3 linked regions of the Homo sapiens genome follow. The protein of the gene in region 2 purifies or fractionates together with the protein of the main gene of each other region. This does not show direct contact. Each region holds a gene or a part of one and is shown on either strand. Other genes may lie near its edges.

What was found. Proteins that work in one complex are often made in the same cells at the same time.
Region 1: the proteins of ASXL1 (region 2) and DDX17 purify together in Homo sapiens (affinity purification with western blotting; 2 studies listed by BioGRID, with this or other methods). This does not show direct contact.
Region 3: the proteins of ASXL1 (region 2) and SLC25A13 purify together in Homo sapiens (affinity purification with mass spectrometry, with the first as the bait; 2 studies listed by BioGRID). This does not show direct contact.

Annotation. Positions count from the first base shown.
Region 1 is NC_000022.11:38,482,906-38,489,311, forward strand, and holds the end of DDX17 (probable ATP-dependent RNA helicase DDX17 isoform 1 precursor), read right to left. Parts: intron 5,211-6,406; coding exon 4,974-5,210; coding exon of another isoform or gene 4,968-4,973; intron 3,536-4,967; coding exon 3,030-3,535; 3' UTR 533-3,029; downstream 1-532. UniProt on the Homo sapiens protein: As an RNA helicase, unwinds RNA and alters RNA structures through ATP binding and hydrolysis.
Region 2 is NC_000020.11:32,361,308-32,368,339, reverse strand, and holds part of ASXL1 (polycomb group protein ASXL1), read right to left. Parts: intron 1,957-7,032; coding exon 1,874-1,956; intron 614-1,873; coding exon 611-613; intron 1-610.
Region 3 is NC_000007.14:96,186,067-96,193,098, forward strand, and holds part of SLC25A13 (electrogenic aspartate/glutamate antiporter SLC25A13, mitochondrial), read right to left. Parts: coding exon 6,971-7,032; intron 5,182-6,970; coding exon 5,043-5,181; intron 3,609-5,042; coding exon 3,515-3,608; intron 3,313-3,514; coding exon 3,228-3,312; intron 1-3,227. UniProt on the Homo sapiens protein: Mitochondrial electrogenic aspartate/glutamate antiporter that favors efflux of aspartate and entry of glutamate and proton within the mitochondria as part of the malate-aspartate shuttle.

The DNA.
Region 1 (6,406 bases), on a different chromosome or scaffold from region 2:
TGTCCCAACTAAAGACCAGTTAAAATATTAGGGTACGTTCTTGTGAATTTCCACTTTCCAGGTAGATGACCAAATTTAGGTGGTCAAGATATAAAGGTGTCAGCTAGTTTTAAGTGTGAAACTTATTTCACTTTCACACTGCCTTCAGGCCAGAAGCAAACCAAATTTACCAGGTTTGGCTGGAGGAGTTTTGTGACTCATCTTTTACTGGTTTGAATTTTTTCAAACCAGTGGCTGATACCTGCCTTGTACTTAGTACCTTAATACCAATAACCTAATGGTACTTAGGCGAGTACCATTTGCACAATCACTGTTTTACTTATGAGCAGATACAGATATATCCAAACCCTTACCTACTAGGTATCCTGCTAGGGTTTTCAATTCCAATTCTTGTATTAAGTTTTTTCCTTTCAGTTTTAGGTGCGAAAGTAATCAGTCAATCCAATATCCCCCATCTTTGTCTTGAAACAAAAACTGTTTTAAGACGTCTACGTTGAATTATTCAGAGAATTAAGCAATAAAAGCTCACACCTTATTGTCAACAGTGTTTTTATTTATACCTACAAAAAGAAAACAAGATGATGGTATCAAAAGGACAATTTACAAACTAAGAATAGTAACATAGCTTTCAGCATCCTGTGCCTGAACATCACACATCTACAAGTCTTTCAAGTCTTAATGCAACAGGAATGTGTCTGGAGACCAGCAAGAACATCAATAGAGAGCACTGATCCCAAGCAAAAGCCACTAACCTTTTAGATGAGAAGTCCACACAACGAATTGTTAGGGAGGATTGGGGAGAAGCAGCCCATTGCTTAATACATTGGAACCCTTTCCCTAAGTTGAGTTTCAACCATGAATGCAATAACTAGCATAAAACGATTCTTCTGCTCATGTTCTGAAGCCAACAGCAGAACCTGAATTATAAGTGACAGACATGGAGGCAGAAGAGTTAAACTCTGCTAGATTTCAGCTGTGCTCAGGCCATAATAGTTTTTGAGGTTTGGAATTTACTGTTATTTTATGATTACAATGTCCCAGGTGGAAAAAGGGAAGCAAGCAATCCAAATAACCACTTGCTTGCCCAGAGACCTTTCCCTCAAACAGATGCTTTCAAGAGCTGCGAGAGAGTAGGGCATCCCTTGTGGTGGTACCTCTATGTTTAAAGAAAGAAGAAAAAAACCCAGAATTTGGTTGTAGAAAACAATGCCCACAACAGACTGGCCAGTGCTTAGACAAATTTGGGGTTGGGGGGAACACTTTGGTTTGAAAGCACAGAGCAGTTTGCCATGTTTCTTCTGTGCCTACCATTCTCCCTTGGCCTCAACTTCTGTAAGATGGGGGGGGGACAAAAAGAGAAGTAAAGTTAAGAAGAAAGTGGAAAATTAAAAAAAAAGATGTCAAAGTTTTTACATGCATATATTTCAGCTTATGCTGAAGACCTACCTGTATGTTGCACATTGAATCATACTTTCAGAACCCCTCAGAAACCATCCCTCTCTCCCTAAAGAATTTTAAAAGGAAAACAAAACCTCGAGTATAGATCTTACAGATGAGCAAGCATTCAGGCCTTAGCCAAAGAATGCAGTGGAGCCTTCCCCCTTCAACTGCATTGTGAATGAATACCAATTAACAGCATAAAAATTAATAGTCCCATATCAGATCTGGAAGGGGTTTCTGGGGCTGTCTGATGTCCCTATCCTGTTGTAGTGAACACAATAGCAGAAAATTCTTTCTGGGTCCATCTGCTATAAAGTCTTGGTAAAACAGCATTACCATGAAGAGGATGAACTCACCTACCTTCAGATGGAGGAAAAGTGAAAAGGACTTAGGCTTTAGTCCTCCATGACTTTTCTTAAGCACTACCTACCTGTAATAAGCTGAGTGCAAAAGGATGCCGAAGAAAATCTGCACCCAGAAGCTGTTAGAAAGCACTGCAGAGAACAGGGTATGAAGAAAATAAAGAGTTCTTAATAAACCCTTAAGATTCTTTGTTCAAGGTAACTTTGCCAAAAGGGCAGAGTAGGTGGCAAAGAGTTGCTTTTAATCTAGCTCTACACTGCATTTGAAAATAAAATTTGCCCATTTTGAATATATTGTTTATAATTAAATGTGCTTTTTACACTGCAGGTCAATATAAAAACTGGTTAGTAAATTTCCAGCGAGCATTTATGTTCATTTGCTCACAGCAGCTGTCTGGATGGAAAATTAATTTCACAGATGGTCCCCAGTTAAACTGGGAAGAAATATAGGCAGCTTCCACCCAGATGCTGAGATGCTACAGTTTAACCACTACAATAAACACTTGTGGTTTTTAATTTAAAGGATACACAAAACTCAGCAATTCAATTTCTAGCCTGACACTAAAATGGTTATTTTTCAGTAACGGGGGGAGAAGTGGGGAGGCAGAGTGTGAAGGGAAATAAAACCAATTAGTAATTTTTAACTATCAAATGCACTCCAGCAATCAGTCAAAACAGGCCCGAGGAAACCTGTTCCAACTTAAGAAACATTTAAAAGCACAAAAGAAAATGTGCAGGGCAATCCCTCTTTGTTTTCTAACCCAGTAATGAGAAATTTAAAGCACAGATGCCATCTTCCTCTGCAAAACAATTCAGCCCTCCCCCTCCCTCCCTCCCCACCAACTCAGAAAAACAAAACATGGGGCTCCCACAAAAGGGCCTAATACCTTACTCTTTTAGATGAAAAATAGCTCAAATATCTTCAACATGCAAGAAGTTGGGGGAAGAAATTAATCTCTTCCAGTCAGCTATATATATATATATATATTTTTTTTTTTTTTACAAAATGTTATTCCAGACTGGATCATTTTGGTGGGCAGAAGAAACCTGGCAGTGAATTCTAACTAATCTGCATGAAAAGACAAATCACGATGGTTGGGGGGAAAAATTAAAAAAAAAAAAAGAAAAAAGGAAAAAAAAAGAAAAGGCGAAGAGGAAAAAAAAAGGAAAGACAGTGTTCCTTAAAATGTAATTAAGTCTGCTGGAGTCACTACCACTTGAGTGGTTTCATTTACGTGAAGGAGGAGGAGGGGGAGGAGGAGGAGGGTATTGGTAGGCAGTCTGCCCCATGTAACCTATCATATTGGTAGCTCCCGGAGGCTGTGCAAACTGTTGTGACATCAGTGGCTGTGGCTGCTGCCCAGACCGGCCTATCCCACTAAACTGCTGGCTAGAGCTCTGTGAACTTCTCCCAGTTGAGGTGGTGCTACTAGCTCCATAAGTGCCAGCACCATATTCTTGAGCTGTATAGCTACTGGTGCCATAAGCAGCTGCCCCATAGGTGCCTTGACCATAGGTGTATTGGCCTGCTTGTGCTCCAAAGGCAGAATTTGGACTTCCATAGCCACTGCCATTAGCATAACCAGCTCTATCGGTTTCACTACGATCCCGATAGCTTGCAGAGTCTCTCCGGCCACCATCCTTGACTCCTCGAAGCCTTCGGTCACACTCATCCTGATACATCAGATTGGGATTGTTGGCTGAAGAAGTGGTCCGGTAACGAGAACGACCACCTAATGGGAAGATACAAGAAGATTTTTAATGGCAGATATAGGACCTAAACATAACAATGTAAAAATTCTACTGGGTACAAAAGTATTAAACATGTCTCCTTGATATTTAGTTATGCTGGCCAGCCTCCCAATTAGTACTGTAAAAATATACTCATAATTTGATTCTTTAATGGGGCACATTCAAAAGCACAGTAAAAATTAAAGGACACTAGACCTTTTCACCCTTTTAGGCCCCTTACTTGAGGATGATCAAGAAACACGGTATTACAATATGAAACCTTGAGTCAGGAAGCCCAGATCCTAGGATATTCTGCAACTGTAGATGCAACTGCTATGTCTCAGTTTCTACCCACCACTAAACAGTGTAAAATGACTGACCTCTCCGTATGGAAAACTGGAAACCTAATATACTACTAAGCATTTTTGAAAGTATTAAAAAAGCAACCATGACCGGGGGCACACTGGCTCACTCTCGTAATCCCAGCACTTTGGGAGATCAAGGCAGGAGGGTCACTTGAGGTCAGCAGTTCAAGACCAGCCAACATGGTGAAACCCTGTCTCTACAAAAAATACAAAAATTAGCTGGACATGGTGGCACATACCTGTAGTACCAGCTACTTGGGAGGCTGAAGCAGGAGAATCACTTGAACCCAGGAGGCAGAGGTTGAAGTGAGCCGAGATCGTGCCACTGCACTCCAGTCTGGGCAACAGAGTGAGACTGTCTCTGCCCCCGCCCCGCCAAAGCAACCACATTAAAACTCAGACCAGCCTCAGCTAGGTTTGGTGGCTCACTCCTGTAATCTCAGCACTTTGGGAGGCCAAGACAGGTGGATCACCAGAGGTCAGGAGTTCGAGACCAGCCAGGCCAACATGGTGAAACTCCACAGACCAGCCTCAGCTAGGTTTGGTGGCTCACTCCTGTAATCTCAGCACTTTGGGAGGCCAAGACAGGTGGATCACCAGAGGTCAGGAGTTCGAGACCAGCCAGGCCAACATGGTGAAACTCCACCTCTACTAAAAATACAAAAATTAGCAGGGTGTGCTGGCGGGTGCCTGTAATCCCAGCTACTTGGGAGGCTGAGGCAGGAGAATCACTTGAACCTGGGAGGCAGAGGTTGCAATGAGCTGAGATCGCGCCATTGCACTTCAGCCTGGGCGACAGAGCAAGACTCCGTCTCAAAACAAACAAACAAACAAAACCAAACCTCAGACCAGTCTCTAAGAAAAAAAAATTCACAATTTAGCTTAACTAATAGGACTATCACAACAAACTTCACGTTTTCTTAGTTGAAAAAGGTTATAAAAAGCATTAGGCAGTGTCCTTTGCTATTAAGCAACATACTTACAGCCTTCTTAAAAACAGCAACTAAAAGCAAGTCACAGAAGGCGTAAAGAGATACCTTGGCAGTACCTGGAAAACTCCAGGACTTACCCTTACCCCCGCCTCCGCCGCCTCCTCTGTGGTCCACAAGCTGCATCAGTTTTGGATTGATAGCCTGATTGGCCTCTTCCAGCACTTTGATAAGCTCTCTGGCCTGTTTTAGGTTCCCTGGGGTGAAGAAGGTATAGGCGGTACCCTTGTTGGTGCTACGGGCTGTTCGGCCAATACGGTGCACATAATCCTCTGAGCTGTTTGGATAGTCATAGTTGATCACAAACTTGACATCTTCCACATCTTCCACGTCAATGATGAGTCAGTGTGTAGGTTGATGTGGCAGGGAAAGAGAAGGTAAAGGACATGCCAACAACAGGTGGGAAGCACGAATGCAGATGACAGCAAGAGGAAAGAAGGTGAAGTTAGTAACCACTCTGAACAGAAACAAAAAAAGACTCATCCCAACAGAGTAAAAGAGGATTACTGATTCCTGGGACATGCATAGGAAATAGGATCTTTATTGGCTGTAGAATCCTAAGGGAATCCCATCCAAACATCCAAACTCCTGCCTCTGCTACATTTTACCAATATACTGACAGGAGTTACACCAATATTGGTCTTCAGACGCAAATTCCAGTACTATCCTTTACAAAACCAGAACATAGAACAAAGTGGTAAACCACTGTGAAGTTATGAGGCCAAATCACTTCTACTCTGTTGGGAGAAGCCTGGCAAAATCTACCAACAACATAACAAACTTACCTTTAAACCAGTCACAGAGCAAAGTAAAAAAAGGAGCTTCATATATTTTATTACTACAATTTAAAGGAAACTTAAATGTTTTGATTAACATTTAACTTTTTTTGCTCTTATCTTTTTAAGAAACTGAGTAGAGCCAAAGCTGTTAAGTACACACCTATTTTCCTTTGCAGAAACATCCAGATTATCTATCCCCTTTCAATTACAAGAGCACATTACACTAAAATTTTACTGTACTACCAAGCCCAGCTTCTGCCAAAATGAGGATATTTTTGCTCAACTCAAGGTTATTTCAACTCAGGACTTGTTTCAATTATCAATGATTGTCTACGTGACCTGGGAAATTAAATTAATAGCCAAAGAACGTGGGAAAACCATGAAACCTTGAGACACAAGTTTAGTATTCTCTCTACTGCTGGGAATTGGGCTGAATAACCTCCTAAGGCTTAAAATGTAAATGTTAGTGTAATGCTTTCAGCTGAATGTATATTTTTACCTACTTAAACAAACAATTTTAAGAATATAACAAAGAATCCTACTGTTTTGTGGAAAAAAATCTGCATTTTACAAAGAATATTCAGAAAATATCCTAGATAAAACACAGATTTTTGTGATATAAATAATTAAAAAACATTCTCTGTTTGTTACCAGACCGATGCACACTCCCTCCTCCTTTGGGAAACCGCTGCAGCCGATCCCGTCTCTTTGCCTTTTATTTTTGGCGGCCTCCTTTCGAA
Region 2 (7,032 bases):
TTCATGGTCCCTGCCACAACAGCAGGTTACAAAACGTGACAATTCAGTGCAAAGGATGCTACTTACTGAATCTTTAAATAGAAAAGCTACCAAAAATATCAACAAATGACCATTATTAATATTAACTGAGTTTGGCACTAGCATATTAGTGCTAGGAGTCACCTGTGCACCCTCTCTTCCCTCTCCCCAGCATGTTAAAAAATATATAAATAGCTTAAGTAAGCCTCTTTGCATTTTTCAGAACTAGAAGCCCTAATTTATGCAGTGTTAAAAATAAATTCTGAGTCTAAAAAAACCATTAAAAAACTATTACTTATTTTGCCTTGGAACACACTGGATGCTAAAAAATTTTTCACCAAGAACCAATCTCTAAAAGAAACCCTATGCAAAATCTGGAGTATCAAGTGGGTGTGCTAGCATCTCTGCTACAAGGGGAACAGCATGCTGGCACAGCTCTTCTGTGACTCCTACATATTATACCTCTGTCTACAAATTACAGAGCTGCTCACTCATCATGAGCCATCATGACTGCTTCATAATTCCTCTAAGAACAAGAAGCAGAAACAAGTTAAGGTTCTCAATTCCATATGTCCCAAAGGGACTCATTTACCTTCTATAGGCAAAGTGGTCCAACAGCAGTGCAGACAGCAGCATGATGGGAAATAGCCCATAAAAACAAAAATAAAGCACAATTATAACACTACACAGTGGATAAGTACAAGTCAAATAAATGTGATGTAGACAATCTCAATCTTCCCTCCCCACAAAACATCAACTTGAGAACGTTTGAACTGACAACTGGAAAGTGAAGGCCTTTTGACCCTAAAAGGTCAATTAAAGCAGCTAAGTTTGACTAGCAAAAACATGAAGTTTGCTCTGAGTCCCAGGCAAGGACTGTGTAGTGCTCTCCTCTTTCCTCATTTAAGTACTTTCTTTGTTTTTTGTTTTGTTTTGTTTTTTGAGATGCAGTCTTATTCTGTTGTCCAGGCTGGAGTGCAGTGGTGCAATCTCGGCTCACTGCAACCTCCGTCTCCTGAGTTCAAGCGATTCTCCAGCCTCCGCCTCCCAAGCTGGAACTACAGGCTACAGGCATGCGTCACCATGCCGGCTAATCTTTGTATTGTTAGTAGAGACGGGGTTTTGCCATGTTGGCCAGGCTGGTCTCGAACTCCTGACCTAAGTGATCTGCCTGCCTTGGCCTCCCAAAGTGCTGGGATTACAGGCATGGGCCACTACCCCCAGCTTTTTTTTTTTTTTTTTTTAAGTTTGAAGTTAGGATGAGGAAAAAGAAAGATGAAAGATAGTCCTGGCTTTCAAGCCTGCAAATTCTATGTTTCTAACTTGTTACTTCTCCAGGAAAACTACACCATAAATTTGGAAAATAAAGGTCACCTCAAAATTTAGTAAATTCACATCATATATGACTGCAATTAGTAAGGGGAAAAAAGTCAGTGGTTTTTTATGTTGATGAGACCACTGTTCTTTTATTCTAAAAGAAAGAACTTCAGTGATACGGCATAGAGAAAAGGGTAGCGTTAGGCACAATAGAGGCTATCAGGTCTGAAACTTCCAAAACAGCACAAGAGAAAATGTGCCCTGACTCCTTACACAAAAAACAAGCTCTATGCCAAGATTTAAGGAAGAACAAGGAGATGGGGAAAGCCACTGCACCTCTAAATGAAAACAAATGGATGTTCACCCACTGCCACCCTCCACTGAGACGACACACAATTTGGGAAATGGATAGTTCCATCTCACTACCAGACACAGAAGCACAAATACATACACAGGTGTACTTACTCATATCACTACAACTACAGAAAGACACATATCCTATGAAACCCTCATGTTAAGCAACAAGAACAATACAAACCTCATTTCCTTTAGTCCTTCTGCCTCTATGACCTGCAGAATCTGTTTTGGTGTCATTGGAGCATCCGAGTAGTTTTCTAATACCTGAAGAAATATAAACGTCCTAATTTCAGTGTGCAATTTCCATTTATATCCATCCATCCATATATCATGGGCTAAAGTTATGCTATGAGGTACCGCTGGTGACAACTTAGTTTTTCCACAGTTAAAATTACTTCAGAAATCAAATTACACATATATCTAGTTACTGAAAAGTTACTGCAATTAACTGAAATGTTCTAATTCTCAATTCTAAGGATGCATATCTTCTCAGCATACATGGTATAGTATGCGAGACCTTAGCAACACTGGTTACTGTTCAGCTTGATGCTGTTAATACTGCTAAACCACAGAATATATAGTGCTGCACAAGAAATGTATGACACAGAAATGCATTCACATTTTCTTTCCCAAGGAAGTTTGATTAGTATATATATATACACACACACACTAATTTTTGTATTTTAGTAGAGACTAGAGCTAGTCTCGAACTCCTGACCTCAGGTGATCTGCCCGCCTCAGCCTCCTAAAGTGCTGGGATTATAGAAGTGAGCCACCACGCCTGGCCAAGTACCCATATTTTTAAACGGTGCTTTCTGCCACTGTGTTGTTAATTTGTGGTGTTAACTGCCACAGTACGTTCTGCCATCTGGCACATGATGCTATGATTCTGCATGACTGGTGCAATGAGAAACAGAATATCCCATTTATGTTAGCATCACCTATAACCAAGTCATGGCAGTATTGCAGTATTTTCTTAGTGTGCAACTGCAGCTCTCTTGCTTTAAGAGTTGTTTTAGATATGTTATTCTTCTAAAGGAAGAAAAAAGCTGTCAATATCTTTGTACTTTGTCTACCTGTGCAGCTACTCAGGGTACTCCAAATCAAGCTAACATCTTACAGTCCATTTAACTGCCATAGCCAAGTACTGCTGTCACAAGCAAAACATAAAGAAGTCTGATACGATGCTGCTGTCTACAGCCATACCACCCTGAATGTGCCCGATCTCGTCTGATAGGTCTGCTGCGGAAGGTACTCTCTATGGAAGAACATAAGACCTCAGCACCAAAGTCAAGGTTTGGAGAAGGTACTAAAATAAAACCCCTATTTCCCATGGTCCTATTCTTTGCTTCTCTTTTCAGATTTTCCATTCTCCATGGGTAACATTATCATCTCAGTTTCAGCTACTACCTAAATTCTGATAACTACCTAATCTCTACCTCTAGCTCTGACTTCTCCCCCAAATTTCAGATTCAAATATTCAGTTGTGTACTGACTATACCCCTTCATTATCTACTCTAATTCAGCTCTACTCTTAATTCATCTAATTGGCAACTCTAATTCACCTCTTCTCCAGACCCACTCTTCTTCCTGTATTCCCTACCTTGATTGACAGCCTGTATAATCACCTAATTCAGAAACGCAGGTGTCATCTTTCTCGCTCATCTGTCCGCCAAGTCCCAAAACCAGTCTCTTACCTGACCCAACACAACAGCCTCTTAATATTTATCCCTCCATCCAGTCCTGCTTTCCTCAAATCCATTCTGACTCTGTTGTCATCCTTCATTCAACAAACACATGGAACACGTACCTTGTGCCAGACACAATTCTAGGGATTCACAGTAAACAAGACCAAATCCCTGCTCTGGTAGAACTTACATGTTATAGACTGAGGTCAACCCAGCAAAGCAAACCTGCCCTCATCACTTTCAGCTCTAAAATCCTTCAACAGGCCAGGCACGGTGGTGCACACCTATAGTCTCAGCTGAGACTGAGGCAGGAGGGTCACTTGCTGCGCTCAGGAGCTCCAGGCTCTAGTGCACTATGATCGTGCCTGTGTATAGCCACTGCACTCCAGCCTGGGTAACACAGTGAAACCTCATCTCTTTAAAGAATTTAAAAAATATATATGGCTGGGTAAAGTGGGTCACACCTGTAATCCCAGCACTTTGGGAGGCCAAGGTGGGCAGATTGCTTGAGCCTAGGAGTTCAAAACCAGCCTGGGCGACATGGTGAAACCCTGTCTCTACAAAAAAATACAAAAAACTAGATGGGCATGGTGGCTCATGCCCGTAATCCCAGCTACACAGGAGGCTGAGGTGGGAGAATCATCTGAGCCCAGGAAGTGGAAGCTGCAGTGAGCTGTGATGGCACCACTGCACTTCAGCCAGGGTGACAGAGTGAGACCCTGTCTCAAAAAATAGTAATAATAATAATAGAAAGCAAATAAAATCCTTCAACAGCTCCTTAATCACATACTGCAAAAGCTGAAGCTTCCAAAGTCCACTGGCCCACCGGTAAAGAACAGGATCTAGAGTTAGATTCAAATTTTTACATTCTAAACTGGGGCAATTACAACCCAACCTGAACCTAGGTTCTCTTTTGAAGGATACTGATGTCTTCCTCTCGAGTTGTTGGACAGATTAGAGACAATGTAAGTAATGCCTACAATGTCTGGCACAGAGTAGGTGCTCACTGGCCTGGCATATGGAACCCTCACAATCTGGTCTCTGCCTCTCTACCCATCCACAGTGACACTCTACAAACTTTATGTTCCAATAATTTGTAGATATACCTAATTCCCACACGTTGCAAATACACACACTCCCTCTCACCCACTCTGACTCTTTCTCTCCTGCTATGTGTTGTCACCAGCTCCTGCTTATGCCCTCTGTGATTGGCCTAACTCCTAGTTACCCTTCAAGATTCAGCTCAGAAAGCACCTTCCTCCAGGAAGCCTTCCCTGATCTCTGCCAGGCAGAGGTAAATGTCTCTTTTCAATGTTCCCATTGTTTCATAACACATACAATTATCTTCCAAACCAGGACAGTTGAGAGTGAAAGGAGAAACTATGACTAGACAAGAGGCAGCAACTGGGATATCTGTTTATGATTTATACAACTATGATAACACGTATCATGACTGTAGTAAAATTCTGTTCCTGCGTCTGGACCTTCTTCATCCCCAGAAGACCATAAGCCCTGAGGGGCAAACCTTATCCACCTCTGTATTCCAAGAACCTAAGTGCCAAGATGGGCAGTACTGACTTGAACAAACCTACAATAAACCCTGGAACAAGCTACTAATGTTCACTGCCACAGATAACATTTCTTTGATACTAATTAAATGAAAGCTGAGCTGGCGAATTTTTATATCTTTTTTTTTTAAGAAGCATGACTCAAATAGTAACTACCAATTATTTAAACAGCAATCAGAAATAGCCTGAGAATTTAAGACAGGGGAAACAGAATCTCTAAAGGGAAGTTACATCAAAAGATACAAAGTATTCTTTTTTATTAAAACTGTTTATGCCTCCAGCTCTTGGTATAAGAACAAGTCAGCAGTGTTCTATTCCTAGTCTCTTTCTAGACTACATTTTTTTTTTTAAGTATCTCTTCTCTTACTTCAAAGGGGAAAAAAATGTTTGATGTAAGAACTGGTCAGTCATGAATCAAAGTAAAAGATAAAGCATACAACAAAGAGTTTCTCGAAGCCAGGGAGAATCCATTTAGCGTCCTCGATTTAAAGGGAAATCCCCTTGGCTATTTCTCCCAAACAAACTGTTTATAACAAGTTGGAGGATTTATATCCACTCAACCACATAAGGTCTACTTCTTACACCTAGAAAAGACAATACTACAAAATGTGTGAAAGAAAGACTATTTTTCAACAGCATAATTAACATCTGCAAAAATCAATCTCCTGGGGTACACTATACTGAAATTCTTAAGAATCTTCTTTCCTCTACGAAAGGTTTTTTTGTTGTTGTTGTTTTGTTTGTTTGTTTTTGAGACAGAGTCTTGCTCTGTCGCCCAGGCTGGATGGAGTGCAGTAGCTCGATCTCGGCTCACTGCAAGCTCCGCCTCCCGCGTTCACGCCATTCTCCGGCCTCAGCCTCCCGAGTAGCTGGGACTACAGGCACTCGCCACCACGCCTGGCTAATTTTTTGTATTTTTAGTAGAGATGGGGTTTCACCGTGTTAGCCAGGATGGTCTCGATCTCCTGACCTCGTGATCCGCCCGCCTCGGCCTCCCAAAGTGCTGGGATTACAGGCGTGAGCCACCGCGCACAGCCTACAAAAACAATTTTTAAAAGGATTCCCAGTAACACTCTAGTCACCAATCTGAGTGGGGTCAGGAGCAATCTGAAAGCGTTCCCATGGAAGTGCATACAATTGCCATTGCAAGCACTCCAAATTCACCTGCCCAAAGAGAAGTGTTCAGGTGTTCTAATCAACTGTCCTACGTTCCCTCCTAGTCAAGTTTCTCTCAGTCCAGTGTACGCTCTCACAAATTCTCCAGTACAGTGTTACAGCAACTTTTTTTAAACATTAAGAGGACTGGTTTTTTCTTTTGTTTTGTTTTTGAGACAGAGTCTCACTGTCGCCGCTGGAGTGCAGTGGTGTGATCTGGGTTCACTGCAACCTCCACCTCCCGAGTTCAAGTGATTCTCCTGCCTCAGCCTCCCGAGTAGCTGAGGTTACAGGCATGCACCATCACCATGCCTGGCTAATTTTTGTATTTTTAGTAGAGACGGGGTTTCACCATGTTGGCCAGGCTGGTCTCGAACTTCTGGCCTCAGGTGATCCGTCTGCCTCGGCCTCCCAAAGAGCTGGGATTACAGGCGTGAGCCACCGTGCCCGGCCTGGGACTCTTAAAAAGTTCCCCCTCACCTACCATCCAGTCCCATTCAAAGAAATGGAAAATTCTAAAACAAAAAACACACACAAGATACTCAAATTGCATATCACATTCTCAACAAGTCCTTTTTCTTTTTTTCTTTTTTTTTTTTTTTTGAGACGAGTCTTGCTCTGTCACCCAGGCTGGACAGTGGCATGGCCTTGGCTCTCTGCAACCTCCACCTCCCAAGTTCAAGTGATTCTCCTGTCTCAGCCCCCTCAGTAGCTGGGATTACAGGCGTGCACCACCACACCCGGCTAATTTTTGTATTTTTAGTAGAGACTGGGTTTTACCTTGTTGGCCAAGCTGGTCTAGAACTCCTGACCCTGTGATCCACCCACCTCGGCGTCCCAAAGTGCTGGGATTACAGGCGTGAGCCACAGCGCCCAGCCTCATTATTTTTTTAGAGTCAGGGTCTCCCTCTATCACCCAGGCTGGAGTG
Region 3 (7,032 bases), on a different chromosome or scaffold from region 2:
TTAAAGCAAGCATAAATAGAGAGATGTTTAGTAATATACACCCAAACCCTTAAAATGTACATAACCTCTGAAGTTAGAATAGGCTGGGTGCAGTGGCTCACACCTGTAATCCCAGCACTTTGGGAGGCCGAGGTGGGTGGATCACTTGAGGTCAGGAGTTCGAGACCAGCCTGACCACCATGGAGAAACCCCGTCTCTTCTAAAAATAAAAAATTAGCCGGACGTGGTGGCGCATGCCTGTAATCTCAGCTACTTGGGAGGCTGAGGCAGGAGAATCACTTGAACCTGGGAGGCGGAGGCTGCAGTGAGCCAAGATCGCGCCACTGCACTCCAGCCTGGGCAAGAAGAGTGAAACTCCGTCTCAAAAAGAAAAAAGTTAGGATAGAAGATAATCATGCATGTAACAAGCTACAAGAATGTAGCACTTAAAAAACATTTGTAGTACTTATTGGAAATTTCGATTATTTCCCAAATTTTTGCTCTTTAAACAAAAAGAACAAAAATTTGGGAAATATTCTAAATGTCCAATAACGGAGGACTATAGCCTTTAAAAATAATAACTTTAAAACAAAACCCTATCATTCAAAATGATACTGTAAAAGAATATTTGATATTAAATGTTCACAAGGAATTATAAAAGAAAACATAGGCTAAAAAGAGCATGGTAAGTAGATAGGTATTTGTCATATGATTCTTTGTACCTATTTAAATGTTTGACCTATTTCCTGGTAATTTTTTTAAAAACAATTTTTAAGACTATATACAAAATGATGTCACTTTTTATTAAAAATGCTTGTAAGAGGTTTACATATATATGCATATAAAATTAATACTAATATTTTGCCTCCCTACCACCCAGAGATACTCAAAACATTTACAGTAGCTAAAACTAGGTGGCTGTATTACAGTTGATCGTTACTTTTTCTCTTTTTTTGTCCATCTTTTCTAAATTCATACTTCAGGTCAGTCAGTCATTGTTTTCTGGTTCTTTTGACCTATTATCCTCACAGTGTTTTTGATGCCAGAACATTTCAGAGTGCTGCACTTCTCTGTCTGCATAAATAAAACAGTAATTTTATGTCACAGAGAGTTGTCAAATGAGGGTGACATATAGTCAGTGCTTAATAAATACCTGTTGAATGAATACATACATTCAATAAAATTTGTTTTTCAGAATCCATGATAATTAAAATCAGTGAACAATGAAAATAATCAGCAACCCCAGCTATCAACCCACTGAATTTTAGTTGCTGTCAATGTAACACAATTCTAATACAATGAGATCATTTGGAATCTCCTTCAAAGTCACTTAACTGAAAATAGCTTTACATAGAAATATGCCTCTTTAAGATACAAAACATTTCTTTTGCAAATTCTATGAGTTGTTTCCAACTGTAGCCCTATATAGATGGAAATCAATAGTACCTTCATTTTGACAGATGCATCCAAAAGAGAAGCAATATTTTATTTACAGGGATATAAATATGCAATACTTAGAAATGTTCTGGCATCAAAATAATGAGTGAAAATACTCTGAAAATTATAGAGGGTGGGGGGAGGAGGGACCTACCACCACCATTAATTCCTCTCCTAAAAGACAAATGAAATCCTAGACTTTTATTTAACTTTTCCAAAGCCAGAACTGTAGCATGTTCTTGAAATGAGACAAAACTCTGCTCCTTCACTCCTCTGTCCAGGATAAATGCTACAAGTGCTGCACAGTGCTGGACAGGCAGCGCTGTGCCCACAGGTGGACGACCTCCCTTGCTTGAATTTGTCGGGCCCACTAGGGTTCATGCAGTAAAAAGCCTATTCCAGGTAAGGCCATTGTGAATTGCTCTAAACCTCTAAGCGGCAGCGAATCATTTCCTGCTATAAATCTCATCAATCTGGTCTAACCCTTTCATGGCCAGTATCAACAAGCACCCATCATAAACTCTCAAAAGCTGCAAAGAGCTTAAAGGAAAAATTGTGGGAAGCCGCTGCCAGCTGAAGAGTAGGAGGGATCTAAAAAAAACTTCTCTGCTTCTCTTAATCCCCAAATTTCTACAATAGCTGGTGGCATACAGACGAAGAGATAATCATCTCCTAAGCAGTGTTAAAAATCAAAGGGAAGGGAGAGCAGTGTTGCTTCCACCTCTACACGTGATTATAGTTATTTCTCCTGCACTCAGAGAAATCGGCTTCCTCTTTTAAGCAAGGCCAGCTGGTTTTCCAGAGGTGCTCGTTAGAATTTACTGAGCACACACCCACTACTTTGACTTGCATGCTGCACACAAAACTCACCGCTGCATTTGGGTGGGAAAGAGCTAAAAGAAGGGGGCCCTGGCTCAAGGTCTGACAGTCCTAAAAGTGTAGCCTGCAGCAACCCATTGTGGTCACACTGGCGTCTCTGTACAAACCCAGAGCTCCATGCCAGAAACTGCGAAGTCTCACAGGATTCAGAGATGGCTCTGCCTAAAAGGAGAAATTTTTCTAAAAACGACACTCGCCTGTGAGTGGATTTATTTTACAAACACCATTTATTTTACTAACACATGCTATGAAGGCTTTTCTTCTCTAATCCTGATCTACAGAAAGCTGGGTAAGAGTTAAAGGAGAAAGTTCCATGTCTTAAGTTTCTGACTCCCACAACTTCAAGAGATTGGTTTCTGTTAACCATAAAATAAAATTTAGCATTCCTAAAATTGTTTCCATATAACTTATGAATCCTTTCACAGAGAAAATAGGTCTGAAAGCCTTTAAACTGTAACTCCAGACTAAACAAAATTATCTCATTTTGATATTCAGAAAAACGGAAGGCATGGCAGTTAGACGATGCGCTGATGAAGGGCTGCTCCACAGAGCAAAGACGGCTTTCATTTAGCAACGTGCAGCTGCCGACAGGCACAGTGACACCAACACGGGATTCTTTCGCTACATCTCTCAACATGAGACTTCAAGAAAGGAGAAAAGACCTCCTTCATGTTTTCGGAGCATTAGGCTTCTGGTGCAGTTAGGAAATCACTCCACCTTAGCAAGAAATGAGCAAATGCCAAATACCTGTTTATCACACCATTTCTAAGCAATTTCTCTTTACAGCCTTTAAAATTTATCGAGAGTTTTGGTGCAAAACAGAAAAATGGTTAAGTCAGATACCAATGCCGCAAAGGCAACTGCAAGTGGAACAGGGTTGGGGTATCCTGCTAAGGAAACCCCAGAATGCAAGTTTGCTCCTCTTTGCTCACCTGCCTCTGGGCCTCAGCCAAGTTAAAGGGCAGAGTTCCCTCTTCCAGAGGAGCAATCCGTTCAATGTCTGCTAAGGTCATACGTCTGTAGGGGAAAAACAAACACAAGCAACAAATATACCAATTTATTACAATTTACATTATAAAATTTAAAAACATCCCTTTTTTCATTTCTCATATTTCAGTATAGCCTTCAGTTTGGCTTCTTTTTCTCCTGATTGCTGCCCTCCTCCTAACCTCCTTTTATTAAGCTAATTCCAAAAAAAAAAAAAAAAAAGCCAACTTACCCCCTTGGCTCATATAAATCTGCTAACTGAAACAAGATGTCAACTTCCATGGGTGTAACCTGACCAAATTTCTGAGCTGCCAGAACAAACTCCTCTGTATGGAAGAAAAGTTAAAAGGGAAAGATTCAAGAAGAAATAGCCACTAAATTCAGCATTAACTCAAGGCACTGGAATGAGTGAACATCACAAAACTTTATTATTATCATCAGTTGTAGAATTCAAGTCAATCCAAATAAGGTAAGAATTTTTGCAGTTCTTGCATCCATTTGGAAAGCGTGTGCAGAATATGTTCTTGAATATACAGTTTAAAAGCTTGGGGTCATCTGATGTTATTCAAATTGCCAATCAGAGAAAATAAGGAATCATATATGAAACTTCATATGCATAGGTCCCAGGAGGGGAAGTTATATTAATCTAATTAACTGGTTAAATTAGGATTATTAATTATATTAATTTAGGTGGTTATATTAATGAAGGTGTGGAATTCCTAAGGGAATTCTGATTTTTTTTTTTTTTTTTTTTGAGACAGAGTCTTGCTCTGTTGCCCAGGCTGGAGTGCAGTGGTGCAATCTCGGTTCACTACAACCTCCGACTCTTGGGTTCAAGCGATTCCCCTGCCTCAGCCTCCCAAGGAGCTGGAACTACAGGTGTGTGCCACCATGCCCTGCTAATTTTTTTATATATACATTTTTAGTAGAGACGGGGTTTCACCGTGTTAGCCAGGATCGTCTCAATCTCCTGACCTCATGATCTGCCCGCCTCGGCCTCCCAAAGTGCTGGGATTACAGGCATGAGCCACCGCACCGGCTCTGATTTTTTTTCTTAATCCCATTACAATGCTGATAATATCCTGTCCCAAGCCTACAGACCAACTTACACTGTCACCAATGCAACTTTATGGAATTCCTCATATACACCTGAAGGCTTCCTTAGAGGTTGCCAATTTAGCTCAAGCTGTAGCAAGATTTGAAAATATTTAAGAAACTTTACATGTTTTCCTTATTCAAAGGGTGTCTTCAGTTTATTTATTTATTTATTTATTTATTTTTGAGATGGCATTTTGCTCTTGTTGCCCAGGCTGGAGTGCAGTGGCGTGATCTCGGCTCACTGCAACCTTCGCCTCCCAGGTTCAAGCGATTCTTCTGCCTCAGCCTCCCAAGTAGCTGGGATTACAGGTGCCCACCACCACACCCGACTAATGTTTGTATTTTTAGTAGAGACAGGGTTTCACCCTCTTGGCCAGGCTGGTCTCGAACTCCTGATCTCAGGTGATCCACCCACCTCGGCCTCCCAAACTGCTGGGATTTCAGGTGTGAGTCACCAAGCTGGGCCCAGTTTGTTTAAAACTTGGTGAAGATTGTTTTGTTTGCTTTTGTTTGTCTGATCAAAGGATGAAAAACACACGTTATCATATAGTTAATATGTGTCAATGGGATAGAAAAATAATAAAGTACTAGTTGCCTTCTTCACCCTAATAATAATACACCACAATACTTGCAGGCTAGAATTCAGATATATTCTCACTCACCCTTAGTCACTTCAACATCTTTCCTGGTGCCAGCCAGAGTGCTATAGATCTTTCTAATGAGTTCCATGTTGTTAAGGAGCGAATTAAATCCATTAAAATAGGAGAAACTAACTTGATGGGATGTGGTACCTCCAGCAGCCTCAAATAAATTGAAAACAAGAGAGAAGAAAAATATACAAAAGATTTATAGATGATTCAGAAGTACATACATCTAAAACTAGTTTGAAAGTAATCAAAAATGCATGTACAAGAAGAAATGACTATAAGTATTTTTCTTTTGCATTAAAAAAAAGCTATAAATGATTTTTAGAAGCAACTGCAACTAATCATGACCAGAACTTGTACTCTCCATACACAACTCCTAGAAAACTAAATAAATACATGTGTAGGATTATAACAGGACTAGTAGTAATTTAGAGTTCAAATTTCAATTGGAAATGTTTTATAAGTTGGTTTATTTCATCTAATGAGCAAATCTTAAAGGCTTAAACATGCAAAAACTATAAGTACATATGCACACATGTGTGTGCTTATGCATGAAAAACTGTATTGTATCAATGCAAACATACTATGAAAAGTAGTCAATGTAACATTAATATCAAGACTTGTCAAGTTACTTATAACCAGTAATAAATAATCATTTAGGTACAGACTTTACATTGGTGGGATTTCTAGCAAACAAGCATATTATGGTAAAATTATGAGATGCCATATACTTTCATGGGGGGTTAAGACTAGTAAAAATTCTGATAATCAGAATTTTTAAGAAACCATATTTCTTCACAGGGGACAAGGGAAACAGACAGAATGTCCATTATGAATGAGACTTCAGTTTGGAGTTTCAAATTCTATCCTTCCCTAGCAAGGCAAAATATTTTTATTAGGAAAGCACTTCTTTACAAGGTAACAACCACATAAATCTTCACTTAGTAATCATTTAAAATAGCTGACATGAAAGTTTAGTATGGAGTAGAGAAGGGGGCGCCCAAGAAAAGGAGTTAGATTAACACAGTGCCAGAATGGAAGAGGCCTCGTTGGAATACCATGTCTCTAGAACTAAGGACTTGGGGGAAGAAAGGAAACTGAAAGGCTACTCTGAGTTCCTGCCTATGGTAAGCACTGTGGGAAACCCAGATGATGGTGAAAACAGTATTCTCCCTGGGATTAACAAAAGGAGAGTTACCACGGGCTATTGGTCCTAAAACTGAGTTATTACCAAAATCACCCAGAAGCTTTACAAAATTAGATTCTAAGACCTCATCGCCTATAGATGGTGTATGATAGGCCTAGAAGAGATCTCAGAATCTGTAGTTTTAATAGTTTTTAGTGGTGATTCTGGTGCTCCACGAGCAGGTCTTAAGAACCACCACCACAGAATGTTGCAGGACATCCCCAGGGCCCATGAGGGAAGGACAGCAGCTGACACCTGGAGGAGGGAGGCTCCATGAAACACAACTGCAGGGCTCTGCTGTCACATGTAACTCTGTGGCCTCGACACATACACGGTGAAAGGGAATCTAAGGTTTGGAGTTTCTGTTGTGCTAACTACTCTAACAAATGATATACATGTGCACTATTTTTTTTTTTTTTTTGCCTTAGAGCATCTAAGAAGATTAGCAAAAATCAGCCCTTGATATACTTCAAAATCTAAAACAAAATTAACATGAGATCACAAATCTGTTTTTCCTTTTATCTTTAAAAAGCTAATGTATTTCTCGAAGATATTCCGTATTACCCAGACAACAAATTAACCTACCCACTAAAACTAGCCAAAACACACTCTTTGTTTGAGTTTAGTAATGTATGTGATCACATTAAAATGTTAGTGTTTGCAACAGAAAAAAAACACTACATAACTTATAAGAATTGTTTTTATAATTCCTTATTTACTGAGTTAAACCACTTCATTAGGGCAAGTTACAACTTACAGCTACTAGACATTCTTCTACAAAAGGAGTCAAGACATGGGGGCGGATGGTGACCATGATGT